4 linked regions of the Homo sapiens genome follow. The protein of the gene in region 3 purifies or fractionates together with the protein of the main gene of each other region. This does not show direct contact. Each region holds a gene or a part of one and is shown on either strand. Other genes may lie near its edges. The genes, in order: NR2F2, GJA1, NT5E and USP22.

Region 1 (7,364 bases), on a different chromosome or scaffold from region 3:
GGAGGGGCGAGTCTGGGGGGAGGGTGAGGCGCTTTTGCAAAAGGCACGAGGGTCCACCCCAGACGGCCTGTGGCCACTCCGGAACGACTCTCCCACAAACCCCGAAGCCCCAGCCCCAGCCCGGCGGGGAACCCCCCCAGTGAGAGACAAGCAGAGAGCGGAGGTCTGGCGTCTGTCTAATCAGTGTGCTCGGAGAAAGAGACGGAGGGAGAGGGCGGAGAGAGAGAGGCCGGCTAAAGAGAGAGGAAGCCGGGAGAGGCAGGGAGCAGGCGGCCGGCACTAGCGGAGCCTGGGCAGGGCCTGTAAGGGCCGGGGAAAGCCGGCGAGGCTCGGGCCCAGGCTGTTATCTGACTCCGGACCGGGAGAGTCGCTCTCGCAGAAACACAAAGAAACCCCGGCGTTGGCTCGCCCCAACCCGGAGCCCGCGCCCCGCGCCGAGCGCGCCATTGGCAAAGCACGGCTCGCGGCGCTCGGCGAATTTTATATCACAAAGACCCAACTCGCGCAGAGCGAAAGCAGCCGCCCAGGGCCCCTCGCCCACCCTTTCCTACTTCCTATCGCGCTCTCTTCGTTTCAAAAAGTGAAAGGAAAAAAGAAAGCAGAGGTATTTTTTTTTTTAGCAGGATGTTAATCCACGGAGGGTCACATGAGCGCTGCCCGGGCGGCAGCGTTAATACGGCGAAGTGCATAAAATTGCCATTTGTAATTTGAACCTCCTGTACAAAAGTACAATCTCAGGTTTTTTTTTTTTTTTTTTTGAGAGGGTGGGGGCTGGGGAAAGGGGTGAGGGGGAGGGACATGTTGAACATGCAGGAAAAACAAGGGCAGAGAGAGAGAAGTAAACTAGGCTTTAAAACAACAACAACAAACACCCCATCCCTTGCAGAAAGGCAGACTCCAGTGAACTCACAATCAATGCAAAGGAAATGGAAACAGCCCAAAGAGAGAGTAAAGAAGGAAATCAGTCGGCCAAAGCATGCGGATTTGGGGTCTGGGTTCCAATGCAGAACTCGCTTCTAGTATAAAACCCTTTTCCGCTGCAATACGAAGAGAAGAGCTTGGGGCTTCTTGTCCTTACCCAGAGCAGGCTAGCCAAACGTACCCAGGACCCCGGGACCCAGGACGAGGGAAGGAGAAATGAGAGGCCGATACCTTCCCGTCTCATGCCCACTTTGAGGCACTTTTTGAGGCGGCAGTACTGGCACTGGTTGCGATGGTGCTGGTCGATGGGACAGTTCCGGTTGGCGCGGCACGTGTAGCTCAGGTTCCTCCGCACGCTGCGCTTGAAGAAGCTCTTGCAGCCCTCGCACGTGAACTGGCCGTAGTGCTTGCCGCTCGACTTGTCTCCGCACACCACGCACTCGATGTGTTGCTGCTGCTGCTGCTTGTCGCTACCCGGGCCGCCAGGGCCGCCCTGGCCACCGGCCGCCGTCTGGGCTGGCGTGCTGGCTGGGCCCCCTTGGCCGGGCGTCTGTGGCGTGTGCGGGGCGCCGGGCGGCGGGCCGGGCACGGGCGGCGCCTGCGAGGCCTGGCTGCCCTGTGAGCCGGGCACCTCGTCCTGGGGGTCGCGCCACGTGCTGACTACCATTGCCATATCTATGGGGGCTGCGTCCGGACTTCCTGCTCCCCTGGCTGCGGGCGGCGGCGGGGCGGCGGCGGCTCCCCGGGTCTCGGGCTCCGGCGCGCCGCCTTTTGTGTGTGCGAGGGTGCAAGAGGGCGCGGGAGGGCGCCCCGGGTGGCTCGGGGGCTGGTTGGTTGAGGTTGGTTAGTTTTTCCTTTTTTGTTTTTGCTTTTGCAAAGTTTTGTCGATGGCTTGTCTGGCCCGGTGTGTTTGTTTTGTTTGTTTCTCTCGGCTCAGCTTTGTTGGTTTCGGGGGGCTTTCCGCCGGGAGGGGAGGGGAAGGGGACAGGAGAGCGAGTGGGAGCAGAACGTGGAGAAAGAGGGAGGGGAGGGAGAGCTGAAGTCGATTGTCTGGCTTCAAGACAGAAGTAGGAGGCAAAAAAAAAAATCTCTCCAAAGATCTCGCTCGCTCTCACTCTCTCCCTCCCTCTCTCGTTCACTCTCGCTCTTAGAGCTGGTGTGCAGCCGAGGAGTTGGCGGAGGAGGAGGAGGAGGAGGAGGAGGAAGAGGAGGTGGTGGTGAAGGAGGAGGTAGAGGAGGAGGAGAGGCGACTGTCCGGGGGCCAAGTCCAGGGCAGCCCACAGTCAGCCATTCAGGAAAGCCATCGAAATCAGGAGGACTAGGAGATCGGAGGCGCCGGGTGCGGGCGCGCCCAGGGAGCCAGGCAGGCCGGGGCGGAGGCCGGCGGCCCGCGGAGTGGCCGGAGCGCTGCCCGGGTCCGGGGGAATCAGCATGAAAGTGGTCCGCGTCGGGCGCTGCGCGGCGTCGTCCTGGCGCTGGGCCGCCGCCGCCGCCGCCTGCCCCGGGCGTCCGGCGCGCGCCTCGCTCTCTCCGGCCGCCGCCGCCCGCAGTCGCTGGGTGGAGGCCGCTCGCCGTTCCCTGCGGGCCGCCCGGGCCGCCGCTGCCGCCGGAGCCGCCGCCGAAGCCGCCGGGTCGGGCCCGGAGCCGCTGCGTCTAGCGCCGCCGCCGCCGCTGAAGTCGCTGCTGCCGCTGCTGCCGCCGCCGGAGCCGCTGCTGCTGCTGCTGCCGCCGCCGCCTCACACACATAGGGAAAGAGTCAACTCGCCGGCGGCGGGGGAGAAATGATAAAAGAGAGAGAGGAGGGCAGATCACCACCTAGAAGCACATCCTTCGTGCGCAGAGGGGGGAGAAAAAGACGGAGAGAAAGAATGAAAGAGGGGAAAAAAGGCAGTACGGCACCCGGAGAAAGGAGGCAACTCGGGGAGAGGAGGAGGAGAAGAAGAAAACACACACGCGCGCACGCACACACACACCGCGGAGAGAAAAGAACAGAGAATCAAAGTGATCAAATATGCTAAAAAGGGGGGCGCGGGAGGGAATGCGATTTATAGGCGCCGGGGCTGGCAGAAGTGGCTTCTCCGCGATCAGCTCACTGAGCTCTCTATATAGTGAACTTTGACACGACTGCTGCAACTTAGCGCACGTTGCCATGGCGACGGCGCGCCTTATAAGGCAGCAGCCGGGGTTGGCCTGGCCAGGCGCGCGCGCGCCGCCCCCTCGCCGTCATTGGCCGGACTGCGGCGGCCCCGCCATGGCGGCCGCGGGCGCAGCCCGGTCCTAGCGCGAGCGGCGTCGCCGGCGCGGCGCGGGGCACGCGGGGGACCGGGGGTTGGGGGGGCGGGGACGGGGTGGCCGCGCCGCCGCCGCCGCCGCCGCCGAGAGGGGGATGGGCCCGTGCTGGCCCTGCGAGCGCTGCCTCTGCTCTCCCCACATCCCGCACCCGAGGTTTCCGCCCCGGCGGGGAGACTAGCGCAGCGCGCACACACAACGTCTCTTAAAGGCTCCGCGAGAGGCTTTGGATGGAATCGGGGAGTTTGCCTCTCGCAACTTGGCGATGTCACGAATTCCGCCGCTCGCGCACCACCCGGGACTCCTGGCGCATCTTAGTACCCACAATGCCAAAGAAAAGTTCCCTGGTTTCTTTGCAGAGGGATAGGGAGTGAGGGTGGGAAGGTGCCACGAACTGAGCTTGTAGGCATTTTCCAAACGAAAGAGTTGGCCAGATCCGGGTGATGGCAAACCCTTCTCTTAATTAACTCTGATCACTTGTTCGGTTTGGTGACATATATATATGACATATATTCTTTTCAGAGGATAAAGGCCGTTCTGTTTCTGTTTATTCCTTGTAGGGTTAACATTTCACAGGTATGTGGCCTGACATTTTAATTGCCCAAATAAAGCATCTCGGATGCTGAGAAGCAGAAATAGACTTCATCTGATTGTCATGATGCAATTAGAATCAATTTTCCTCAACTTTACCCTCTCTCGCTGGTTTTAGCTAACTCTCCAGCCAACATCCTGCCACACACCCAGTCATGGTGAGAGGGGAAAGACCTCTGCCCACTGATGGACAGGAGGAGGCAGCCGCCCAGCCTCCCCTGTGCACACCCTCTGTACACACATGTAAGCGCACATGTATCAGATGCACATTTGTCAATGTACACAGACAAAGACTTCACCGACTATGCTTCTAGGTCATAGAACAGTTGAGTACGGACTTCATTGTTCCTCAAGTTCCTTTTAAGCATTCATATAGTCATTAAAACGCACCCAGAGATTCTGCCCCAAATGGGAAATAATACTAGTACAGGTCACAAGAACCAAACCCAAGCCATATTCTACCTCAAGAAGTCACTGCAAAAAGAACAACTTCATAGCCTATTGCCATTCTGCTCCATGTGCTAAAATAATTGAGACAGTTGTGTCTTTGAATTCCAGGGTGTCTGGTTTTAAACATCAAACATGTAGAATTGCTCTCAGAACACACTATATTCCAACGCAGTAAACTTGTTGTTTATGACCAGTTAGTGAATTATCATTATTCCACATTTATACAAGAAAATTGTGTCTCCTTTGTACACACTTTGCACCAAGAAAAAACCTCATGCCGGTAAACCAACCAGGTTTGTGAACAATTAAAATATTTTACACAAAAGACGCTGAGCTCCAGGAAAGAAATGAACACATATGAAGAGTAAATTGATGACCACAGAAAACATCCTTGGTAGCTGAAAAAAAAATTGACAGGGTAAAGATATTTTAAAAATAAACCATACATATAATTGACATGCATAGATCACATTTTACATTCAATTCTCTTTACACACATAGGCAGAATATGAGGTAAGGACTAAAGATCTGGGCAGATAGGGGCTGGTTTTTAGGAAAGGAAAAATCTTCTTTAAGCTTCATTCCCGAAACCTCAGCCCTCACTCTTTCTCCGATGAAATCACGTATTTCACTAAAGCTGCAGGTTCTCGGTTTATTTGAAAGTTGTTAAAAAAAAAAAAAAAAGCCCAGCAAACCTATAGTGGACACTGAACTATCATAAACCTGGTGTGTAATAAGATTGCCACAGAATGAAGCCAAGCTGAGAATTTCAGGTTAATTAGAGACACAATATAACTTTCTCCTAAAGAGGATAAGAAGGATGGAAAAGAAATCATTACACAGGAGAAGGTTTTTGGTAGTTGTTGTTGTTTTCCCTTCCAACCTCTATGATTCAGGAATTGCTAATGTTACAAATGTCAGCAGATTCGGGACAAGCTCAGCTGAGATGTGATGAGACTGGGGTTGAGATAGGAAATCTAATGGGCATTCCCATCTCAATAGAGGATGAAAATAATTGATTATAGGGAAATCTTCATCTCACCTCCTGAATGAGACTTCCATAGCAGATTACCTTTTACAAACATGGGAAGGAACAATATCGAGGAGGAAGAGCTTCCCCAGTCCACTTAGAGATTTTTGGAATTTGAAGTATGCGTGATGGCCTTAGATTAAAATGGAATAATTTCCCAACCATATCTTAACAAATTGGAGCCTGCTAGGCAAATGATCACAGGGCTGCCATAAAGTCAGGGGTGTTTCACTCTGTATTTTAGGACTCATTCAGTTATGAAATGCTGTTACAAGGGAGAAAAAAAATCACCGTATGAATTATACTTAATTTTAATGCATAGAAGAAGAGACAAGACTACAGACTGAGAAGAAAAAAGGGCAAAAATATTTTTAAATGTCTTCTCCAGAGATGCTCACTTGCTGTGCGTCTAAGGTTAAAAAGCTCTGAGAAGATAAAATCAATATATTATTGTTGTTTTTTAAAAATCCAACTCAGTCTTTTTTTGCAGATGTAAATTTATTATAATGAGAAGAATGGCAAGCTTTAATTTGCCTAGAGAAAGTTGGGACAACATTTGCCCTAATCTAAAAAAGAAAAGAAAGAAACTCAACACCCAGGAATATAATTTTCTTGCAGAAAGTGGCCTGATGGGCTGTATTTCTTTACAGATTGAATCACAATATGAATACAGACCCCAGCAAATGCCGAGTTTAACTCTGAACTCAGTAGAAACCAGTTCCGTCCTCCAGGATTCATTGAATTCCTCCTTTCCCTCAATCTAGTCCGTGTGTGTTTTTCTCTTCCACCACACTGGAGCTCCATGAATAGGGAAAGGGGCTTCCATTGTGTCCCTCTGAACTTCCAAGTCAATGCAATTTTTAACCACTGGCTTGTGGTACTTTGAAAATCACCAGGGGCTGTCAGAGTTAGGTCCTCTGAAAAATTTACAGTGCTAAATCAGAGCATATGCTGGGAGGGAAAAAATTGCTTAAGATTAGAGCAAGTACAGTATCTGTCTGCCCCCTAGTGTAAGAGTCCTCGCTGCCTAAAATTCAACTTTAAAAGAAAAGGAGCTCTTAAAGGGAAACGACTTTGGACTCACGTAGGCATAGGAGAACGAAACTTCTGTACATTTTAATCTGAATAATTCTTCAGGATTTAAAATTAATTGGCTCTGGCTTGGTTGGACCGTACTCGGATCTCGCCACCTCTGCGTTTCCCGAGTCACTGGCGAAGAGGTGATTTTTTTTTTTTTTTGAACTGGGTTTATGTGCGTCCCCCTCACCCCCTCCTCTCTTTTTCTTTCTCTCTGTCTCTGTCGTCTCTCTCGCTGGCTTTTTAAAAATGAGGAACCGCTCCTTGAATGTTCTGGACAGAGCACAGAATTGCTTCTTAAGTCAGCCCGGCGCGGTTGCAATAGACAGCAAAAAGGTAAACGTTTGCCTGAAATCCGCACGCCAGCTCCACCGCCCCGCCCGATGGTGAGTACCCTTCTCGTCGCGATTCTCCTCCTAGCTTAACCGAGCGCTCGCCTACCCGAACCGTGGCCGAGGGCGCCGGGCTAGGCTTTTCTCCCTCCCTGCCTGCCTGGCTGTCAGTTGCACAAGGTTGCAAAATGAAGCGCAGAGGCAAAGCGAACAGTAAATTCTGATACTTAGTGCGAGCCTAGCAGCTCCTTTGCTAGAAAACCGAGTCATCTGCTGCTTGCAAAACCACGCTTTATAGGACTGGTTTTTAGTTTGCTCTGTGGAAGGAAATGAGTTTGAGGAGACAGGACGAGGAGATAGGAGGCTCCGCAGTCTTAACGCTTCGGTTTAATCATATTTTGGCAGCTTTGCAATTGTATTTTCCCCCCTCCCCCTCCACCATCTCTCCTACCACACACATGTAATAAAATATGGCAATGCATTGAATTGACTCTGATCCCCCCTTCCCCGAACCCCTTAAACCACAGTCCTCGGCATTTCATACACGTTAGCAAACCGATATTTTGAAAAGCCCCAAGTCATCCCCAACCCCACACAGCACAAGCAGAAAAGTGAGAAAGGAAAGAGAGAGAGAAAAAATACTGTAAGTAAACATACCAAAACCATATTTGCCT
Region 2 (7,311 bases), about 36 Mb from region 3:
CTGAGAATCCTGAAGATAAGTCAGAACAACAGGAAAGGCGGAGTGGAAGGTATTAATCACTGGTGACTGTCCTATCATTCCCTTCCCTGCGGGTATCATATATAAAGGCTCAAACCAAGCTACACCCCTGGATGTAGAGAAAAGAAAAGAAAGAATGCACCCCGTGTTTTCCCTCCTTCTCTATGCAGGAATTGGAAACATCTAAGTAACAAAGCAACCTTCAGTATCTGAAAGCACAGCCTTTTATCTGCCTCCTGCGGAGCATCTTTGCAACCATGTTTCCCAAGGAGGGTGACAGCATTGTTGGTATCACAGTCGCCAAGGGTGAGGAACTCAGTGGCTGGGTTGAGAACCCTCAGAAGGCATTAGAAAAATGTGGAACATGTTTAAACAGTGAAGAAAGTAGGAGCAAAGCACTAACACTGCATTTTCCCAGGTAACCAGTCTACCCTGACTTTGGGAAGTACAAAGCACCCCCACACTGGGGGAACAATGTTCTAATAATATAGAATCAACATCGCCAGGACGGAATGGAATGTACTGCCTTTGCTTGGTATAATTTCCAGTCAATTCGGCCTACCCAGAAGTAATTAGTCTTCTCCCAAAAGTGTTTTCTGTCTAACTGGCTTATTTCATTCCTGGCGCGGGGGGGAGGGGAGCGCTCGCTTAATGAAATCTCTGCATTACTAGACGCTTTAATTTCCAGTTATCCTTGCACAAAAGTAAACATTAGGCTTCCTCACAGGGACACTTTTCACCGAGTTCAAATGCGCCCGATTTTCGGAGGGCGATATTCAGTATCTTTCTTGTCGTTACTAACTGGGTCGAGGAAGCAAAAGAAATTCAACCGTCTTCCAAATAAAGCCACGCTTCTTTTTACAACATTGTGTAGCTCTCCCCTTCCCACCCCTACTTTGTACCTGGAGAGAAAGAGAAGCACGCCTTTTGGGAGCAAGGAGAGCTTATCGATGAGCGTTATCAGAAACCCCCAGCAAAGGCTGGCTGGGTCACTAAAGGGGCAGGGTGGGCGCAGCGCTGCTACGACCGTGAGGCGCGCGTCTCGGAAACAGGCTGACTTGCCCCGGACGCGTCATCAGCTTCCCGAGGGTCTCTCCTCCCTGCCCTTTCCCCTTGAGCCGCCCCGCCTCATTCTCGGGAAGTTTCAGGAACTTCCAGGGGAGTTGCAAGTGCAATTTAAGCACAATTCCCAAGGTATTCAGGTTTTCTTACCAACGCGGAGATAGTGGGATTCAGCAAGTTTAAGAGGAAAAAAGAAAAAGAAAAAAAAAAAGGGCTGGTGTGAGAGGGATGGGAAATTAGATTGACAACTTTAATTAAATCAACCATTTGTTCTACCATTTGGCACCCAGCCCATCTCTCCTCCTATCCCTCCCACCCCGCACCCCGGGTTCCTTTGCAGTGACGAACTCGGACCTGAGTTCGATTTGACTTGTGAGGATTTGGGGGAAACGTCCCAAGACCGAGCTGGTTCGGGCAGCGAAGGCGCGGGAAGGATCCCGGCAGACGCTAAGATGGCAGGAGGCGCCCCGCGCCCGTCCGGCCCACGGCCTCCGCAAAGCTTTCATTTTTATTTGCTTTTCAGCATTCACTGGTGCAAATACTTCCACTGCAGGGTCACGTCAAGAATCTAAACTAATTATTTTAGTTTGTAGATTTACACAGAACAGAAAATCTTTACCGGGCACAAAAATGCATGGCTGCATTTCTGATGAACAGAATGGGTGTTACCAATAAAAGTATTTTAAAAATTGAACCCTTTTAAACAACGCATTAGCGTTATCTTTGCCCTAGGAGCTCCAACTCCAAAGAACTGCCCCAGAGTTCTGAATTCTGTTACAGGTTCGAGCAGAGGGAAGGTGCGGGGCGGCGGGTGTTGGCGGGGGGAGCTCCCAAAGCGCTGTTTAAGAAAGTTTTTTTCCTGCTCTTTCTAGGAGCTCCCGTTTTAGGAGACGGTTTTGGAAAAGTACCCTGGCATACACTCTTTTTTAAACGTCTGATCTCTAATGCTCTGTAACTAGCCACCACCCATTCAAGAGATTTCATCTCCTAAACTGCCAACGTGGTCGAGTAAAAGCTGTCTCTCCTGAGGGTCTCAAATCTTTCCATAGCGGTTGCTAACACAAAGTAACAATTTACTGTTGATTTTTAAAGCATAATATTAATACTCTTGAATTTTATACCTTTTTGTTTAATGGGGAAAATTCTAGGAAGGAACCACGTGGAAGTCAAGTAACCACGATGTTTTAACAAAGCACTTCGTCACAAAAGAAGTTGGCTTTGCAAAGCTATAGAACATCAATCAAGATTTCCATATGAAAAAAGCACTTTATTCTATGAAGTGTAGAATACTATAGGAAGCACGCTAAGCAAATTTGCACTTTGATTTTTCCGATGTAGTCAGTCAAATCCCCCAACCCAGGCGCCTAACCGCCCCCCCCCCACCCAACAAATGATAGCACCTAGACTATTACTGATTACAAAAAAAAAACAAAATAAAATGATACTCTAAAATGAAAAACCAAACATCCAGTAAACTAATCCTTTATTCTAATCGGAAAGGTTTGAACCTTTTCACCTGTTGCAATGTTAATAGAAACTTTTTTAACAGTCAAAATATATATTTGGTACAATAAATTTTAACTTTAAAACTATAGAAACACTTTCAAATCCATCAATCCATTTACAGTATCATAATTCAAAATTACATTTAACACATTTTAAAACTTTAGAAAAGTTTTACTTGTAGAAAAAGAAACTAATAGGTAACGTGTTCTCATTTTTTAAAAACTTACTCTTTTGCTTAAAAGTAGTGAAGTCACGCCAAGTGATTGAACTCCTTGGAGGATGAAGTAAAATGAAAAGGCAAGTTCAGGCACTCAGACCTGTCTATTTAAAGTTTAAAACTCCGCTGCTGTTTGGTACTTTCCTCACGCCTTCCCCCTAATGAAAGAAAAGTGCTGATACCTCGTAAAAGCTTTTTTGTAACTTGGAGCACAGAGCTTTTAAAAGTTTCAAGCCACTGACTCAACTGGGAGGAGGGGCTAGAAGAAAGGGGAGGGCAAAGGGAAAGGCTGGGAGGAGGTAGGGAGGAGGCTGGTAAATGTGGAAGGGCTGGGGGGAGAAGAGGCAAAGAGCAGCAGTGGGATCAGGATAAAGTTGTAGTTTAAATTTGCTGATGAGGAAAAATAAAAAAGCATTAGGGACATGAACGCCTCTACTTGGAGTTGCTCCTCACACATAAGAATCATTGATTACACTGCTTGCTTCACCAGAAGACCAGGGATAATGGGGGAAAAAGGTGTATATTTTTATTACAACATTGTCTAAAATTTTTAAAGTAGCTTACAATAAATAAAAATGGTGGGGAAGCATATAACCAGTTCAAGCTTGTTTCACATTGACCAAGGTGTGTGAAGTTAGAGGTAGGTGTGAGTGACCTGTTTGATGATCTAATTCCCTTCCTTTAAATGTAAGCAAGGACAATTAACAAAGGGAATGGTGGAGATGGGAGAGAGATTTCAAAAATTGACATAGATGAAGAAAAGTCCATACCCAATCCATCTTTCAACCCCTTGACTGCTTTGAATTTTTACTTTCTTTCAGTTTAGCAAAAGGCTGTGTGTGTATATACATTTTTTACATATATAGCATGTTTTGTTTGCCTATGAAATCTTGATATCTGACCTCTACCATGTCTCCAGAAAACTAAGAATTTATATTAAGGCCCTATTTATGCCAAGACACTAAAACCCAAATCTGTAGTGAAATGTGAGGATTTTAAAAATACAGACTATGGTTGCATTAAGTAGGTTCCCAAACTATTCAGCCCTCCTTAAAATCAGTTCCCCCTCTCAAGCCCACTAGAGAGTTTTCTGCCCAACGACAGTAAAGCTGAGCATATCATCTTTATGTGCTTCCCTATCCCCTTCCAAATGCTCTCCCTCTTCAGGGCTCTGCATTAGGGTTTATAATGGCCTGAGTCATGTGGCCTCAATCTTAGAGCAGGCAGCTCCTCTGAGGGCTTCCCAAATGCCATAACACAGTGTTGTGGTAGGACAATTCCTCATAAACAGGCTTCAGTGATGCTCCTGAGGTTGGACAGGAAATTTCTTGGCCAGTATTCTCTGGAGGGAAAGCAAACTCATCTGGCCTTCCTATTCCTAACACTTTTCTCACTCAGGCAAATACCAGAAAAAAGAAGGATGCCAAATATATTCTGGTAGACACCGTTCCCTAATTAAACTTTCACTGAAATGACTAATATAACATCTTTTGAAATGTTGCAGGTTTTTTTTTTTCTTTTCTGAGACGGAGTTTCGCTCTTGTTGCCCAAACTAGAGTGCAGTGGCGCCATCTCTGCTCACCGCAACCTCCGCCTTCCGGCTTCAAGTGATTCTCCTGCCTCAGCCTCCTGGGTGGCTGGGATTACAGGCCTCCGCCTCCCAAAGTGCTGGGATCACAGGCGTGAGCCGCCGCGCTGGGCCCAAATGTTGCAATTTTAAGGAACAATTTTGCTTTTACTTGTTGGCTATCCTATTTCCAAGAGTACATTTTTCTTTAAATTAAGAAAGGGGAAAAACAATCTTCTGGAAGTAGAAATTGTAACCTGACTTTCGAGTCTTCAGGTTCAGCAACCTATAAATGTTGTTTTGGTCTTGTATTTATATTGTTCTTTAAATAAATCTATTGTTTTGTCTTAACTAAAAATTATTTCATTGGACTTAGAACATATTCATGAAAATGATTTATTCTTTTTATCGTAAGAAAATACATGTCTTCTTTTCAAAAAAGTATGCTTCATTTAATTTACATAACAATTTATTTTTGTAAAATTATTTATCAACTACAATTATAAAAAACATTACCATGATGCTAATTCAGAATAAGTTACATGAAAGAAAAGTTGTCATTGACTGTTTTATAATAGGATTTTTAAAGCAAAAAAAATTGTGTTTATTTCTGTTATGTTTTGTTAGGTCTATAGATGAATGTTGATGTTTAAATATTCTTGTAAAGTATTCTTTTCTTTTTAATCTATTACCTATGTGACCAATTGGAAATAGAGCTAAAGAACTTCCTTATAACAAGTTAAATTATTCATGGATATCACTTGAACTATTTTCTGAGCCAAAGGAATTACTCATAGCATGAGCCAGTAATTAGTTACTTCTCTTAATACATGAACGTACTATGTCTTTTCTTTCTAAAATCATTTTTCCATGATCATTGATACAAGATCTCAACATGATTTCATGAAAATATCATTGATAAGACATTCTGAAGAAGCTTCTCTTCTTTTGGGATAATGGCACTGAAATGCAATGCTATGAGTAATCATGTGCAAGACAAACTAGGTTTTGCAAAAGGCCCCACAGTTTTCTCTCATGGACAACTAACAGGGTCTCTAAATGACAGGTAGCAACTTCTATTATAACTCATACTCTAGCAGTGTTGGTGAGTTATATTTTTATCAATAGCAAAATTGTTCAAAAGTATCTCACTTATCTGACCTTAGAAGCTTGTCTCCATTGGAATGTTTTGCAAAAATTGTGGAATAGTTTTTTTTTTTTAAATGTGTTTTTCTCATATTCTCAGAAATGTCAATGCCATTTCTTTAATATAAACACTGACTTCCTAGAACTGTGTCTTCTCTGATTGCCAGACCTTGTCTATGTAGAAGAAATGGATGCAGCCTGATTAACACTGCTCTTTGGAGAACTAGAAACAGTTATTTACAGTTTCTGTCTTCTGCAGGGCTTCTTTAGGCCAAATGACCTGCCAGGCCTTTGATTCTGTTTTCTCCATGTAGCTATATATATTTTGCAAAATGCACATTGTTGGCACAATGGAGGGTAAGTTTTTTTCAGAATTGTGAGAAATATTTCTTAATATGAGAACCACCTCCTTTTTTGGATTTTTACCTTTGTTTCAAAATAGGAATTTCTGAAATTTTAAGAAATGAATGGAGTGATTTTTAAGGCCTTTAAATGCCTATCCCACATAAACTCTGATGGATTACTTTCACCTCATTGAGTAGCATAAACGTTAAATAATTGGTGGCTCCGGATTAGACTTGTAAGAAGAGTATTGTAATGGGAGAGCAGTAAGCTATAGGAACTTGAAAGGCAATACTAGCAGAAAGAAAGGAAAGGAAGGTAGAATTACCAGAACTTGATGATGGATGAATGGGAAGACAAGGAAGAGGAGGCTGTGGAAACCGATTTTTGGAGTTTTGATTGGGAAAATGTTACTAACACAAAAAAAGGAAGCTCGGGGAGGGACTGACCTGCTGAAAGAGATACAAAGATTTGTTTGAAATATTTTGGTATGAAGAACTGAAATATCTAGGTAAAGACCGATGACTGACAATTTAAAACAGGAGCTGTGGCGTTCACTTTAAAATTGTTACAGCGGGGCACAGTGGCTCATGCTTGTAATCCCAGCACTTTGGGTGGCCAAGGCGGGCAGATCACCTGAGGTCAGGTGTTCGAGACCAGCCTGACCAACATGGAGAAATCCCGTCTCTACTAAAAATACAAAAATTAGCTGGGCGTGGTGGCACACACCTGTAGTCCCAGCCTCCCGGGAGGCTGAGGCACGAGAGTTGCCTGAACCTGAAAGGTGGAGGTTGCAGTGAGCCAAGATAACACCAATGCACTACAACTGGGCAACAGAGTGAGACTCAGTCTCAAAAAAAAAAAAAATTGTTATAAGATTTGTGATTGGGAAGACACAGTGGTTCAACTCTGTAATCCCAGCACTTGGGAGGCTGAGGTGGGATGACAACTTGAACCCAAGAGTTCAAGACCACCCTGGGCAACATAGGGAGACCCTGTGTCTACAACAAATAAAAAGGTTATTTAGACATAGTGGCAGGCCTCTGTAGTCCCAACTACTCAGGAGGCTGAGGTGAGAGGATCTGAAAAAAAAAAGAAAGAAAAAAAAAAGATTTGTAATTAGAAGCCACAGGTACAGATGAAATTACTAAGAGATGGGATATAGGCAGTGTACCAAAAAGCACACACACAGCCTTGGTGGATTTCCTCATTTAATGCAGACAAAAAGAATGAAAAAAGAGGCAAGGTAACATCTGGGAAAGGGAAAGGTATTTAAAATAGCTACAAGTGGGCTTATTTGTGGGAAAATATTACTTGTGCACTGGAGGAGTAGTTAACTTTGAAAGGACAGCTACTCCGTTAAAAAGAGAATGAGTGCAACATAAAGAAAATGTTTTCAGACAGTATAGGCCGCATGAAACTAGGGTTTGAAGGTATTTTCTCAAAGTAGCTA
Region 3 (8,027 bases):
TACAGAATGAGGGATTTCAAAACATTTTTAGCCAGGGTGGTGGCATGTGCCTATAGTCCCAGCTACTCGGGAGGCTTAGGTGGGAAGATGGCTTGAGCCCAGGAGGCTGCAGTGAGCTATAATTGCACCAGTGCACTCCAGCCTGGGCAAAAGAGCGAGACTCTGTCTCTAAAATTAAATAAATATGAAAAATAAATAAAACATTAGTGCCTAAACAAAAGCCTGATGTAGCTTCATACTCAGTACCTTCTTAAGGTGCTGGAAGGAGATCAGGTAACCACCAACATACTGCTTTACAAGAACTAAAACCTTTATTTTAAGGTGTTCTTAGATGTCTGAATTTTGGATGTTGCTTTCCTTTTGTAAGATGATGCAAATGCACAAACTCTGCTACCCTGGAGATATCAACATAATAGATAAAAGCATATCTGTTTGGCCAGACTGTTTTTCACTCATCTGTTCACTTGACTCCAGAGAACCCTGGCCTTGTGTGACAGGAACCTCTTTCACAGGCACAGAAAGACAACACACAGTTTTAATGGTAATAACAAGTCCTATGGCTGAGCAAGACCAGGTATGAAGAACAAGCCCGTCTACTTGTCACCAGGCGGAATGGCCATGGTAGCTCTCTGGGGGCCTTACTGAGCCAAGGTCTCCTATGTCGGACTACTACTTCCATGGGCTCACAGCCTGCACCCAGGGAAGTCATTTCTGTCAGTGCTTGGCATGCATTGCCCAGTGCCCAGGATACAACTGCACTCGATAAATGTTTGCCGTGTAAATGACAACAATCATGCTCATGCCAAGACCAGACTCATGATGTCTCCTCAGCATCATGCAGTCAATGCCAGAGAAGTAGTTAAGGAGAAGCTGGTATATAAATGTTAAGAGAAGTCTGGAGGGAAACAACCCAGGCTGTTGGCAGTGCTTATCCACTCTGTTAAAGAGGCTAGGACAAAGGAGAGCTTTTGCTTTTTATTTATTTATTTATTTAATTAATTAATTTATTTATTTATTGAGACTGAGTCTTGCTCTGTCGCCCAGGCTGGAGTGCAGTGGCATGATCTCAGCTCACTGCAACCTCCGTCCCTTGGGTTCAAGCGATTCTCCTGCTTCAGCCTCCCAAGTAGCTGGGATTAGAGGTGTCCACTACCACACCCAGCTAATTTTTGTATCTTTAGTAGAGACGGGGTTTCACCATGTTGGCTAGACTGGTCTCGAACTCCTGACCTTAGGTGATCCACCTGCCACAGCCTCCCAAAGTGCTGGGATTTACAGGTGTGAGCCACTATGCCTGGCCTTTTTTTTTTTTTTTTTTCGGCTTTTTGTCTCCTAAATGAGAATATATTCATTTTATTTCTTATAACTAAACATATATTTTGTAAAATAAAAGTAAGAATGGATGTGATTCTCCCCAGCTTCAAAAGGCTGTCTCTGTCTTTCCAAAATTGCCAACTTGGGAATCAGCTGCAGACATAGACGTGGAGGCCAGGTTCTCTTTGGCATGAGGTCTGGTGTTGAGCAGGCTCTAGGGCCAAGCCCTCAGAATCAGGCAGAGGGCATGGCCTGCCCTGGAGAAGCCTGTGCAGGAGTGACTCTGCAGGCCACCTTGCATGGGAGGCCCAGTCCCGACACCAGGGCTACAACCGAGAGACCATTTTGCTAAGGCCACCTGGCCTGACAGTATGGGAGTTTTAGGAGGGGGAAATAAGAGTTTGACATGGACTGGTAACAGTATATTTTTACTTCTGGGAGCATAAAATTAGTTCTAATTATAGTTGAGAGATCCCTGGGAACACAGCAGCAGGTGAAAAGCAGCTTTATTTCCTCACTAGAGCTAACCAGATTCCTGGAGCTGATCCTAAGGAAGAAGAGCCAGAGTAACTAGTGTAAATCTGTGCTACTGTTGCAGATTAACAACAACCTGAGACACACGGATGAAATGTTCTGGAACCACGTATCCATGTGCATTTTAAATGGAGGTGGTATCCGGTCGCCCATTGATGAACGCAACAATGGTATGCTCCCAGGCCCAGCTCCTCAGTGTGTCATGTTCTCTCTCTGATCTCCTTTTCTGTTATGGTTCTTGCCCTGAACACACCCATGTGCAGCCTCAGTTCATCTCTGCTGCCAGCCATGTACCAGAATGTCAGTCCTTTAAATTAGGGTTAGCCATTATTAAAGTCTAAAACCTAGCCTGAAGGACACACACAAGCTTGTGTGTTCTTATATGTATTCACACACAGAAGCTGCAGGTAAGGTTAGTGGAACTCAAACTTGGTCTGAATTTCTGACTTACAAAGCTATACTAGTTGTTTCTGATTTATGCAAAATAACAACAGTCACCACCTTGGCATCTGAAAAGAGACAAAATCACCAATCTTCTGTCCTGAAAAAGACATACCACTGGATTAAAATGTTACCTTAGTATATTTACAGATATCCAAGATTATATCATATGGCAAAACAAATCAACTACACAAATACTCAAGACACTCTTGTAGCCCTCCCTGATTTACTGTGAAAACCAATCAGTATCAGTATAAGGCCCCAAACGCATCCCATTGTCAGACAACAGGGACAGGTTGCAGGGGCACATTGTTTGTCTGGAGGAACGGAACAATGCAAAACAAACTACTGGAGATCCAGCCCCAAGCTAGCAGATCTAAGACTGAGCATGGTGAACTTCTGAGGCACAGCCATTTGTGAGCTCCCGCCATCTTGCCCAGTGGTGGAGTGCAGGGCCAGAGGCCTCCTAAACTCATTCCCTTCCTCAGTGTCAGGAACCACTTAGACATAGCTAATGATGCTCTATAAGCTTCCCATGTCCCCCTCATTTCTTCCCCCAGCGCTGAGGGAAACTGGTCATGGTGTAAGCATTTTCTCAAGCTATTTTCCTTCTTGCCTCATCTGTGACTACCCTCAGGCACAATTACCTGGGAGAACCTGGCTGCTGTATTGCCCTTTGGAGGCACATTTGACCTAGTCCAGTTAAAAGGTTCCACCCTGAAGAAGGCCTTTGAGCATAGCGTGCACCGCTACGGCCAGTCCACTGGAGAGTTCCTGCAGGTGGGCGGTAAGTCACCCATCCTGTAGGGCTGGCCCATCCAAAGTGACATGGCATTTCCTGCTGGTTGGCTCAGCTTCCCCTTCACCAAAATTCCTGTGGTCAAACTGGTTTGGATTTTTCCCGACCCAACACCAATACCTTACCCTTTAATGGCTGTGGACTCTCAGAGCCACTAAGATTAGGTTGGGGTCAAAGCCCCAAAGCCCCAAAGCCCTGGCAATAAGCAGTATTTGCCAAGTCTGATTTGGACATCAGATGGGCCCTCTAAGCAGGTCACCTGCTTTGAGGTCTAGTTTCTAATAAAATCTTATTTAAGCATTCAATTATTTTTTTTTTAAATCCTCTCCTCTGTTCTACTCATCGTTGCCTGGAACCATGCCAAGATTTAAAGGAATGCTGTCCAATCTGTATTAACCAGGATGATTCCTGGAAGGAGCAGCCTACTGCACAGACATACCTGAACACCTGGTTCTAGTCCCACTGTGACCTGGGGCAAGTTCTCAACCCCTCTGGGCACAGGGAGAAAACCTTTCCTGTTTATCTCATGGACTGCAGTGAAAGTTGAATGGAAATAAATGCTTCCTAAATTGCCAAGGGCTTCTGAAACACTTTTGTTAATAATTCCACAGTCCAGTGAATTAATCCTTTAAAAGCAATCTTATTTTACCTGGAAATCATAATCTGGCCTCATTTTTTTAACCTTAGGTTGTGGTCCCGCTTGACAGATAGAATTGCTTTCCTGAGTTTTCCTCTGCAGAACACATTGCTGTTGAGACTGAAGGGCTACAGAAGGCAGTGGGGCCCTGTCCTAATGCCTATGGGGCAACCCAAACATCCTCCATTTTCCCAGAAGGGAGTTGAGGGAAAAGCAGTTTTCTGATGCTCTAGCAAAGCACTGCATAGCTCTATGCCTTGTGGAAGTCACCAAATCCCAAATGATTACCATTTAATGGTCTTCAAAATTGTAAAATGCTCTCTGCCTCTGATCTGTTTCTCACTTTCTAAGGCCATTGAATCAATTTAGTAGACCAATTCAGCATTTTAAGGGAAAAACAGAAAAAGATGTGGTTTTGTCCATGTAGAGTCACCCTTTGCCTATTCTGGTCCAGAGCTGGTTTTCCTTCCAGTGGTTCTCATATGTCCTGTAAGGACTCAAGGATAAAGGGTGGCTGCAATGTCACAATTCTCTTGACAAAATTTCACTCAGGTTTAAACCAAAGGAAAAACCACAGCCCCATGCCCCAATTGTAGAGTTTGGCCAAAATTCCTTAGGAAACAGAAATCTCCCTTTGGATCTGGTGAAAACAGATTCATTTCTTTTCTAGGAATCCATGTGGTGTATGATCTTTCCCGAAAACCTGGAGACAGAGTAGTCAAATTAGATGTTCTTTGCACCAAGTGTCGAGTGCCCAGTTATGACCCTCTCAAAATGGACGAGGTATATAAGGTGATCCTCCCAAACTTCCTGGCCAATGGTGGAGATGGGTTCCAGATGATAAAAGATGAATTATTAAGACATGACTCTGGTAAGCATGACTGTCTCTTCCTTTCTCTAAAGAACAACAAAATTGGGCCAAGAAGGGGAGCTACTAGTGGTGCCAGGAGGGCAAAGTGACTCCCTGTATTGCTGACTCCCTCCTGCTTTGCTTGTTGGAAAGCAGCAGCACAGCACAGCAGAGAGGAATATGTACCCTGTCAATCCCCGAGCACACACATGCCTTCATCCAACCCCAGAGACAAAACATTTGTAAATCAAAAATGTTTTAAAATTCTTTTAACTACATCTAAGCAGCTATTTAAATTGTGAAATATAAGTGAGTTTTGCATTAACAGAAATATCACACCTCTGGAATTTTAGGATATGGAAAACCATCACATTAAATCATTTAAATTTTCTTTCTTGAAGAAGTTTCTGTGTGAATCAGTCAGGTAGAAGTGGATGGGGTGAGCGCCGCCCTTTCAGCACAGTGGGTTGGTGGTACAAATCATAGGAATAACCATACTTGATGTCAGTTGGTACTTCTGGCAGCATTGAGGGACATTATATGCCAGCCTCACTTTTAGAAATTCTGTTGAGAGTCACATTATGTGCATACAGACCACTGACATAGGACACACTTCCCCTTCCTCTTCCTAGGGCAGAGACCAGCATGCTTACAAGACACACAAGCAGCTTCTTGGCATCTCTGGGTAGTTCCACCAGGATCTTCCTCAGTCTTATCATGCTGGACCTGTCATTTTAGCTACTTATTCCAAGGAGCGTGGAGGGCAGGACCAGACCAAAGGAGGCAGCCCTTCCTGGGAGGAAAGGTGCTGGCTTCTTCTGTCCCTTCCGTGACAGAAGATGGAAGGGCAGGCGTAAAAGCCCCATGAGACAAAGAGGCTGATAGCCATCAGCTGTCCACCACTCAAGCCTAGACTGAAGGATGTTAGAGAGAGGAGCTCATGCAGAAGGCTAAGGAAGCCCTGGACCTAAGCGTTCTCAACACTGGTTATACATTAGAATCACTTCAGGAGCATTTTAAATTAAATACCAATGGCTCGGCCGCAGCTCTTAAGAGATTCTAAGTTAACTGGATTGGGGCTAAACTCTTTTTCAGTGATTCTAGTGTACACCCAGAGGTGAAAACCACTGAAGAGAGAAGGGTTCTTAAGTACTGGAGTGATATTTTTAAAATAAAATTCTGTTGGGTTCCCAACAGAACATGGGTTCCCAACAAACATGGGTTTGTTGTAGCTATAGGCAATTAGCATTTATCCTCTCCTCTCTTTGGTAAAGGAAATCCCCCAAGTCCCATCATCAATTACATGAAAATAATTATTGGGCAGGCAAACAAAAGGAAGCCAGTTTTATCTCTCAACTAATTGCTCTTGACCCAGTTCCCTAATGCCCTTGTTCTGGAGTGGTTCAAAGGCTATGATGTCAATGACCTCTTTCTAGAGTCATCACAGAGCTGAGGCAACTCTACTTCCCCCAATTACCCAATATTGAACAACAGACACATTTTACATCTGGAGCATGAAAAAGCAATCAAATTCTTTGTACTTATGATCACTAGCGTTCTTGTCTTCTGTGACACTTTACCCCTGCTTATGAAATTGCTTCCCTTTTATAATTACAAAGGACTACCTTACTGTTGATTGATAATTACCTTTTCTGTAGTTAAAATAATGTATATGTTTTTCTAGGTGACCAAGATATCAACGTGGTTTCTACATATATCTCCAAAATGAAAGTAATTTATCCAGCAGTTGAAGGTCGGATCAAGTTTTCCACAGGAAGTCACTGCCATGGAAGCTTTTCTTTAATATTTCTTTCACTTTGGGCAGTGATCTTTGTTTTATACCAATAGCCAAAAATTCTCCTTGCCTTTAATGTGTGAAACTGCATTTTTTCAAGTGAGATTCAAATCTGCCTTTTAGGACCTGGCTTTGTGACAGCAAAAACCATCTTTACAGGCTCCTAGAAGCTGAAGGTTAGAGCATTATAAAATGAAGAGACAGACATGATTACTCAGGGTCAGCAACCTAGTGAGTTAGAAAAAAAATTAACATAGGGCCCTATAAGGAGAAAGCCAACTATGTTAAGTTTACGTGTCCAAATTTTAATGAAATTTTACTAACAATTTTAAACCATATTTTTCTTCTTCATATCCATTTCTAATCCATCAAACAGCTTATGTTTACATAAAATTTTATCATTCACAAGGAAGTTTTAAGCACACTGTCTCATTTGATATCCACAACTTATTTTTGGTAGGAAAGAGAGATGTTTTTCCCACCTGTCAGATGAAAAAACTGAAGCTCAAAAAGGGTTGACTTGACCATACAGCTAATGCTGACAGATCCAAGACCTAGACCTAGGTCTTTTGAACTCAAGTCCAGCATTCTCAACTATATCAAGTTACTGTTCAGAATACTTAATATCTCCTCTCTTCATAATTATCAATAGCCCCAAGCTCATGGATGACAAATCTCTGCTTTATTTCTTGTCTCTATTTTTTCACTTTATAGCTCCTGTTATAATAGCAAGTTTAATGGTATAAACACAGGATACCATCCTCTCTTGCAACACCCATGTGCCTTTGATGAGTCAGGTAGCAAGCTGTAGTAGATAATGAGAAAGGCCAGAGGCTGCAAAAGACAGTCAAAGGACACGAGAGAAAGGAAGGGGAAGAACAGGACTCCAGGACTGTTTTATATTATAGAAAAGCAAGAGCTAAAGAGCATTTACACATGTTAAACAGATACTTGTTAAGCATAGTGCCTGACACACGGCATTAGCTGTTATTTTATGAGATTCCATCAGCTCTGCCTCTGTCCTCTTTCTTCTAACATGAAGGTATCATGAGAAGAGAACCTTCTAACATAAGCTGTAATTCTAAACCTGCACTTGTCCCTCTCCAGCAAGAGGCTAGCACTGAATTCATTCTACTCATACTACACACCCAGTTATGGAATGTCCAGAGTTCTCGAAGAAAATAAATGACTTTAGGAAGAGGTATACATTTTTTAAGTCGCTCTGCCTCCAAATCTGAACAGTCACTGTAAATCATTCTTAAGCCCAGATATGAGAACTTCTGCTGGAAAGTGGGACCCTCTGAGTGGGTGGTCAGAAAATACCCATGCTGATGAAATGACCTATGCCCAAAGAACAAATACTTAACGTGGGAGTGGAACCACATGAGCCTGCTCAGCTCTGCATAAGTAATTCAAGAAATGGGAGGCTTCACCTTAAAAACAGTGTGCAAATGGCAGCTAGAGGTTTTGATAGGAAGTATGTTTGTTTCTTAGTGTTTACAAATATTAAGTACTCTTGATACAAAATATACTTTTAAACTTCATAACCTTTTTATAAAAGTTGTTGCAGCAAAATAATAGCCTCGGTTCTATGCATATATGGATTAGCTATAAAAAATGTCAATAAGATTGTACAAGGAAAATTAGAGAAAGTCAC
Region 4 (8,027 bases), on a different chromosome or scaffold from region 3:
GGGCCCTGTCAGAGGCTCTGAATCCACAGGTCTATCTCAGCTGCATCTAGAACTTGGGGCCTGTGACCCTAGGCAACACTGGAGACCCCTGCACATTTCACAGAGCGTGCCCAGGCCAGGCCCGGTGGCCTGCACTGGACAGTCAATGCTGCATTTCACAAGGCCAGTTCCTTGCTAGAAATTTATTTAACAATATAAAAAATGAAAACTTGCAGACTGGGAAATTTACTCTCGATATTTATACAGGATTTAAATCTTGAGACAATCTCCTACTAATGGAATTCAGTAGTTAAGGGACAGCGAGGAGGTCCAAATTGCTCAGAGCAAACTCGGTTTCTAATACTCAGAGACAAGGCCCCAAACGGTCTATGCTCCTTATAGAAAATGGCCCCCGTGACACAGGCAGCACTGGCCTTTCCCGATATTTGCTCGTCTTATGCAGTTTAGAAGTGACAGTCCATTTCGGGTTCTGAAATAATTTCGGTGGATCATGTCCAGGGTTTTTAAACTTCAACTGAAGTAAAGAACAGAGCCAGGCACGGTGGCCCATGCCTGTAGTCCCAGCTACTTGGGAGGCTAAGGAGGGAGGATCGCTTGAGCCCATGGGTTCAAGGCCAGCCTGGGCAACATACACAAGACCCCATGCCTGAAAAAAACAAAAACAAAAACAAAAAACCTGTAGCATGCACTGAGGTTGGGTGAGAGGGTCCCCTGACCTAACAAAGCAATGGATTCTCCCTGCACTCAACACTTGAGGCTCTAAGCAGAGACCACATCTGAGAAGAATTAGGGCCACTACATCAGAAAATGGAACCAGAAACCATAAAATAATGAAAACTAACACACTTCGAAGCACGTAGAAAAACAATCCACCATGCATGATCCACGCCTTCTTGAAGAGGGCTCTTTCACTTGGTCCCTGGTCAAGGACTGTAAGATGCAAAATGGTAGGGGAAGCTTCCAAGAACACACTGCTGGCTGTAGACAACAGCCAAGACCTCAACACGAAGGGCTCGCATCCCGAGGGGACACCTGCCCTACGACCTCCCCAAGAGGAAGCACCCCCACCCCACAACCTTCGCTCTCATGGCGTCTATTAATCATTTATCTCATAGCCTCCTTAAAGACCTCTCAGAGCACACACAGCTCTGGAGACTGGGAGGATGTCAGTACGGCCCCAGAGGGTTTGATATTGCCGAGCACGCAGCCTCTCACTTACTGGCAGACTTGGCAGGTGACGTCTGACTGCAACCCGCCTGTGAAGATCTGGTCTATGATGCAGTTGCAGTGGTTGGGGTTGTTGGCCTTCTTCCCATTGTCATCACCTGGAGACAGACCACGGCTCTGGGATTAGTGTCTCCCCAAATATGGGGAGTCTCTAAGGGAAGAGCAGTTCACCCTGCAGAAGCCTGGGGGAGCCAGGGCCAACGCTTTAAAAGGCCATGTGAGGACACTCCTCATTTTAGCAGAGGGTGTCCTTGTTATTTTAATATGACGAGAAATCACAGCACTTGGATTTTCAATGCTCCTTTTTCTCATTCCCTAACAAGAGCCCCACAGCTTCAGTCTTGCCAAGAAAACCCACCTAATGCCCAGTGACTGAGCAGAATAATCGATTCCCATTATCATATAAAGAATGACTGAATCAATATTGTTCCAGTGAGACAGCTGAACATATGGTGGGCCAGGTACACCCGGGGAAGCCCCAGCAACCTCCCTCCCTGAGTAGGTATCATGGTGCCCCAAGTTCAGAAAGTGACACCGCAGGACACAGGCTGTCCTCATCAGCTAGAGCCCCCAGGGGACAGCGTGTCTTCCAGTCAGTTGCATCTGGAAGTGCCACTCCCACCCTCTCTATTCAATACACACTTCATTCATATCCATGTGTGCAGATCTGTGAAAAAGAAACTTAAGTAGCAGAACTTAATTCGTGTGTGGAATACATATTCTACATAACTTCACTAGACAGTGGGGACAGGGCACGAGGACACCTGTATATACATCACAGTTCAAAGACGTTGAATCATGACAGAGGAATAGAGAAGGGCCACTAAGTCTTCTGAGAGCAGAAGGTTTAAGATTAGAGAGAAAAATGCTTCCCAGAGGGATCTCAAATTCATGGGACAAAATTCAGAGGACAAGAATATCCATACAGGAAGGCGCAAAGAATGATGAACAGAATGGCCAGGCGCGGTGGCTCACGCCTGTAATCCCAGCACTTTGGGAGGCCAAGGCGGGCGGATCACGAGGTTAGGAGACCGAGACCATCCTGGCTAACACGGTGAAACCCCGTCTCTACTAAAAATACAAAAAATTAGCTGGGCATGGTGGCGGGCGCCTGTAGTCCCAGCTACTCAGGAGGCTGAGGCAGAAGAATCACTTGAACCTGGGAGGCGGAGGTTGCAGTGAGCTGAGATCGCACCACTGCACTCCAGCCTGGCGACAGAGCGAGACTCTGACTCAAAAACAAAACAAAACAAAACAAAAGATGAACAGAAAGATGCCGTGAAGGCCACAAGGACAAAATGCACGTAACCAAGGCCATGTGGCCAGGCCACCTCGCTGAACAGCTCTGGCAACCAGGTTTCTAAACAGAAGAACCTTACATTTCTTTTCAGACATTTCCAAGGGAATTCTGTCAGAAGCACGTCAGAGGTCACATTTTGTCATGTGAACATTTAACAGCAATGCATTTTTGAACAAGTGATTTTTAGAACATCTTTCTGCTGCTTACAGAAGGCTCTTCGTTATTCTCACTAGGTGCTTGGGGTAACAGCATAGTCACTTCCACAGTGGCTCTTTCCTCTCTTATAAATCATACTAGGACATGAAATTCTACCTAAGCTACTAAGTAACTTTCCTTTGATTTCTAGGTAAGAATTAAAAGGATCACGTAGTTTTTCAGAGGAAAAAAAGTAAGTACCAAAAGAAAACAGAACCCAAAGTCACATTTGACCAAAACCAGCCATTTTAGCTCAACTGTGGGTTGTTTCTGGGCTGTGATCTCAGAACCCATAGGTTGTACGTAAGCGCCTAGGGCCCGGGTGCACAGCCTTGAGACGGATGAGAAGCGATGGGAAGGCCAGCCCACCAAGCTGTTCAACTCGGTGAACCGTCAGAACAGGACTCTGTTCTCTAAAAGACTCCAAGTTAAAATTAACTGATAGGATATCGGCTACAACTAGCTGTGCCAGCCCAGAGACCACAGGAAACTCACAAGCAGCCAGGTGCCCTGTGACCTGAGCGCATGGGTTCTCAGAGTATGGCATCTGAACCAGCGGCATCAACATCAGCTGGGAACTGATTAAGAGTGAAGAAGCCCCTGCCCCCCACAGATCTGCTGAATCAGAAACGCCAGCACGGGCTTTAGGAAGACCTGCAAGTGACCAGCCCACACTCATCTGAGAATCACCTCTCAGTCTCTCTGCCTGTATGGATAGACTTCAGCTGCAGGTCCCTCACACTGGGATCTCCACCATGAGGAGTGGGGAGGAGCCGATCTTGGCTCAAGTCATTCATTCCCAGCCTCCCACCTCCAGCGCTAAGAGCTGCCCCTGCCAACTACCAACACCACACAACTCTGAAAAATCATCAGGGTACCACCCTGGGGCCAGGCTGTGGGACTATGTTGGGGGAGATGGCCCAGGTCCAATGAGACCCCAAGAGAAGCTTTGCTCGTCCTGTGTCCCAGCTCTCTGGCTATTTCAGAGCAACCATCAGTCCTTTTGGAGAGTCCCCAATGGGAAGGAGACAGTTGGGTGATTAAGTTGTGTTTGGGGGATGTCCAGAAGCCTCAGGCCTGATAACCCACAGGGTCCCAGAAATGCCAGGGCAGGCAGGGGCCTCAAAGCACAGGCCCAAGAGGGCTCCAAGAGTTTGCTGTTCACTGTGATCGGTCACTGAGGACCTGTCATACTGCTGGAACTACTTCCTCGCCTCTTAAAAATAAACTAGGAGGAGCCTCTCTGAGGTCATTAGTTATGGTGACTTCAGAAACAAATGACGACAAGGGCTATGATGACAAAACAATGGAATGTGTCACCTGTGCCCCTTTTTGCACGAGTGCATACACTCGCTTTGCTTCCTTCCCCTTCAAGGAAAACATCCTGCCCTGGTGGAGGGTGCAGAGCCCAGGGCCCACCTTTGCAGTGTCGGTGGAGCACGTCCAGGGCCGCGATGAGGAACTCGTGGGCGTCCTGCTGCTCGTAGCCTGCTAGGTGCCTCGCGTGGGTCCACACCAGGTGCAGCAACTTATACGGGATGTGAGGGGACCGGTGTCCAGAGTAAAACTGCCAGAGGGCGGGGAAGGAAACCTTGTCAGGAATAAATGTAGACTCTGAACACAGAGTACACACAATCAAAACCTTTATCAGATGCCTACCATTGGCTGTGGCTCATTTGACACAAATGTTTGGATTTTACTTTTCTACTTTTTGCAAAGTCTATTTTTATCTGGGCTCACTGGACTTTTCGAGTCCTCATATGAATTTTTTCCTTTCTACCATCTAGTTTTCCACATATAAGCCTAAAAAATGAATTATGACTTGCTACTATGAGATCACATGCAAATAAAAGTGACTCGATTTGCCCAATACTAGTTTCCTCAAAGCACTAGCCAAACCACTCAGGCCCATGGACACCAGCACCTCCGCAAAGGGAAGCACATCACTGTGATTATGCAGAATTCACCAGCATCAGCCACAGGATTCTCTGCCTCTGAGGCTAATGGCAATTAGCTGAGGGCTTGCCAGCCAGTCCTCTCCAACAGCTCAACTCCAGCCGCAGACCCAGCAGCACACCTTCCATCCCACGGCTTCCTCCCCAGGTCAGAACCCACAGAGGGGTCTTGCCTGTGCAAATACAGAATTCAGGGCAGTTTTATTTCTCATCAAAAAACCCAAAACCACAGACCACCCAAATGTGTCTGAACTGGGAAACAGACAACTAAACCATAACCCATCTACATAATGGAACCCAACTCAGACATCGAAAGCACACATCATGGATGCACGCAAGACACGGGTGAATCCACCCAGTATTACATTAAGTAGGGACAGCCAGATTCAGAAAGGCTACTTCCTGCATGCATCCATCCGTATGATGCGCTGGTAAAGGACACTCAAGGGACCGAAGACAGATCGGCAGCTACCAGGGTCTGGGGACTGGGGGTTGACTTCGGAGGGGCACGAGGGAGTTCGGAGAGGTAACAGTTCTTCATCTTGAGTAGCAGCAGTTACACAACTATGCATTCGTCGAAACTCATCTATCTATAGGCTAGAAGGTGGGTGTGACTGTAATTTACACCTTAACAAGCCGGAGTCTAAAAACAATCTAACACAAGTGAGCTTATCACTAAAGTCAGTGATACAACCACCCACCAACTTCCCAGCTGCACCCTCCTTTCTCCTATTTGGGCCGTGTCCCCAGCAGTTATGGCACATTGCAGGTACTTTGAGGAAATCGGTTAGGCTCGACCAGAGGCTGGCAATCTGTTTTTGAAAGGCTTGGACAGTAAATAATTTCAGCTTTGCAGGTTGGATAGCCTCTGTCCAACTGCTCAACTCTGTGGCTGTCCCACAAAAGCGACCAGTGACCAGACAGACATGAGTGAGCTGGCGTGGCTGCATCTCTCGCAGAGGTTACGAATGGGAACAGGCCAGGGCTGTTGGCTGGCTCCTGTGCAAGGCACCTGAAGAACAGGCACCAGCCTGCTTATTAGTTGAGGTAACTGAGCTGCTTCAGCTCTGAGAAGCATGTCTAGGTCACGGAGCCGGTGAGGGCTGAGGCGGCAGCCGTGAACGCCTTGCTCTGAACGCTGCCATGCTCTGATGCCGGGGACAGAAGTGGACAGGAACGCCACACGTGCAGCCCACAGGAACAGCCAACGTGCAGCGCGTAGCTCATGAGGACAGAGGCTCTGATGGGGCATGCTTAGAGAGACCTGGCGGTGGAGGAGACTCGCATACCAGGAGGACACAGGAGGGTGACACATGCGTGCCTTTCTGAGCCAGGAAGGTAGACCATGGAGGAAGAGGAAGGGGGAGAATCACCCGTCTTTAGAGACAAATGTCACCCACCAGGGAAGTCTCTGCCACAAGCCTCTCAAAGGGCTTCTCCTTGTTCTGAGTCAGCAGTGCGTCCCCAAAAATCACGCCAGGTCTTCCCTTTTTGGAAAACTGTGTTTTCCATAATAGACATGTATATTAAACATTAACTTACTACAAAAGGTTCTAAATGTATCTTCCTTTATCATGGTCCACCTTAAATTTTTTTTTTGAAGGTGAAAACAAAGTAACAGAAATGTTCCCCTGCAGAAGTCAATGGCGCTCACCTCCTGAAACAGTGAGGACATCTCACAGACCAGACAGGAGCTGGGGCTCTGCATCTCACAGCGGTGCCTGTCAGACAGGAAGAAGTCCCGCAGAAGTGGCGTGTGGGTCAGGGCCTGCACGATGCAGTTCATGAAGCATGTGTTCCCAAGGTTGATCAGCCCACGCAGACCTGGACACAAATCACCAGAGAGCAGGAGTTACCTGTGTGCTGAACCACAGGTGTCGCTGGATCCCAGCGGCTTCCTCTACCTCTACATACTCATTTTCTTTTATTCATTCATTCAAGCCAGAACACGATGAGATATCGCATTCTGCTAGTTTTTATGCCACTTTTACATGAACGGTATTGAAGAATGTCCACCACCATGGACCCCTCCCACTTCAGCCATTGTATGCTTTGACAGAATTACACAAATATAGTTTCTACGACAACAGGCCAGGTCAGAGTGAAGCCTAATGAACAAACAAAACAGGTTTTTAAAAATGTTCTAGGGCCAGGGCAGGGGCTCATACTTGTAACCCAGCACTCTGGGAAGCCAAGGCATGAGGATCACTGGAGCCCAGGAGTTCGAGACCAGCCTGGGCAACATGGTGAGATGTCTCTACGCAAAACACAAAAATTATCCAAACATGGTGGTGTGCACCTGCAATCCCAGCTACTTGGGAGGCTGAGGTGGAAGGATCGCTTGGGCCCAGGAGACAGAGGGTGCAGTGAACTGTGCTCCAGCCTGGGCAACAGAGCAAGACTCTGTCTCAAAAAAGAAAAAGAAAAAGTTTTAAAGGGTATTCCCTCAATTTGTAGAAAATTCAGCGAACACTTACACTCACACACATCATTTCTCTCCCTGAAGATTACTGTGCCCAGCCTCACCCTGGCCAAAATCAACTTGAGTCCCTTTACCCACACAGACGCTGAAGGCTGTGAGGGCAGGGCTGTTGCTACGCATCACTCTGCGCCCCAAGCCCACTGCAGGTCCCTGCAGAGAACAGGTGCTCAAGAGCTGGTTGCTGAGCACATTGATGAGTGACAGTTATGCAGGGCTTCAACAGAATCATGTGGACTTAAGAAACCCACAATTCTGTATTTACTTTTAAACCCTGGAAAGAAGCCTAGCTGAGAGTGACGACACGCTCCACCCACCTATGGTGCAGTTCGAGGTGATCTTTCTCCTTTTCGGGTTGTGCTTCAGCAGTTCAAGCTCCCGTTTGGTTGGTTCCCAAGTTGAAAACTTCTCTCCAACGCCTAAGCAGATGAAGGACAGTTCCAAGCGCTATTAGCTAGATTTTCACATCAAGTGTGTTTACACATAAAAGCTGTGGCGCTATGCTGTCTGTCAGGGTGCATTTCAGTGAGCAACATCCACAGCACCAGGGCTTTCTCAAACTCTACTGTGCTGAGAGGGGCTACACACAACACTTAAAGGAGCTTCTCACAGAGGGTATGAGGATGTGAGCTACGTTTCCTGCAAGAAAAGCAGCACCTCCAGTCAAAACTACCCCAACGCCAATGCCAAAACAGTTGTTTTTCAAATGTCTTCCATCCTTCAGCACAGAGATGGCAGCATCAGCACCAATGGGAACTTACATGAAGGATTCTCCCGCAAACAAGTGAAATTGAAGGAGAGAGCTTGCACTTTTCAGCAAACTGAAATAGCATAAACTCAGCGTCGAGTTACCAAACTAAGATAGATCCAA

Evidence for each region.
Region 1: the proteins of NT5E (region 3) and NR2F2 purify together in Homo sapiens (affinity purification with mass spectrometry; 3 studies listed by BioGRID and IntAct, with this or other methods). This does not show direct contact.
Region 2: the proteins of NT5E (region 3) and GJA1 purify together in Homo sapiens (affinity purification with mass spectrometry; 3 studies listed by BioGRID and IntAct, with this or other methods). This does not show direct contact.
Region 4: the proteins of NT5E (region 3) and USP22 purify together in Homo sapiens (affinity purification with mass spectrometry; 4 studies listed by BioGRID and IntAct, with this or other methods). This does not show direct contact.

The regions. Positions count from the first base shown.
Region 1 is NC_000015.10:96,326,336-96,333,699, reverse strand, and holds the start of NR2F2 (COUP transcription factor 2), read right to left. Parts: upstream 3,001-7,364; 5' UTR 1,595-3,000; coding exon 1,153-1,594; intron 1,136-1,152; exon of another isoform or gene 1,079-1,135; intron 440-1,078; exon of another isoform or gene 393-439; intron 1-392. UniProt on the Homo sapiens protein: Ligand-activated transcription factor. Activated by high concentrations of 9-cis-retinoic acid and all-trans-retinoic acid, but not by dexamethasone, cortisol or progesterone (in vitro). Regulation of the apolipoprotein A-I gene transcription.
Region 2 is NC_000006.12:121,431,335-121,438,645, reverse strand, and holds the start of GJA1 (gap junction alpha-1 protein), read right to left. Parts: upstream 3,001-7,311; 5' UTR 2,814-3,000; intron 1-2,813. UniProt on the Homo sapiens protein: Gap junction protein that acts as a regulator of bladder capacity. A gap junction consists of a cluster of closely packed pairs of transmembrane channels, the connexons, through which materials of low MW diffuse from one cell to a neighboring cell.
Region 3 is NC_000006.12:85,487,582-85,495,608, forward strand, and holds part of NT5E (5'-nucleotidase isoform 1 preproprotein), read left to right. Parts: intron 1-1,912; coding exon 1,913-2,018; intron 2,019-2,926; coding exon 2,927-3,076; intron 3,077-4,395; coding exon 4,396-4,596; intron 4,597-6,259; coding exon 6,260-6,423; 3' UTR 6,424-8,027. UniProt on the Homo sapiens protein: Catalyzes the hydrolysis of nucleotide monophosphates, releasing inorganic phosphate and the corresponding nucleoside, with AMP being the preferred substrate. Shows a preference for ribonucleotide monophosphates over their equivalent deoxyribose forms.
Region 4 is NC_000017.11:21,011,611-21,019,637, forward strand, and holds part of USP22 (ubiquitin carboxyl-terminal hydrolase 22), read right to left. Parts: intron 7,576-8,027; coding exon 7,474-7,575; intron 6,502-7,473; coding exon 6,332-6,501; intron 4,290-6,331; coding exon 4,142-4,289; intron 1,326-4,141; coding exon 1,220-1,325; intron 1-1,219. UniProt on the Homo sapiens protein: Deubiquitinase that plays a role in several cellular processes including transcriptional regulation, cell cycle progression or innate immunity.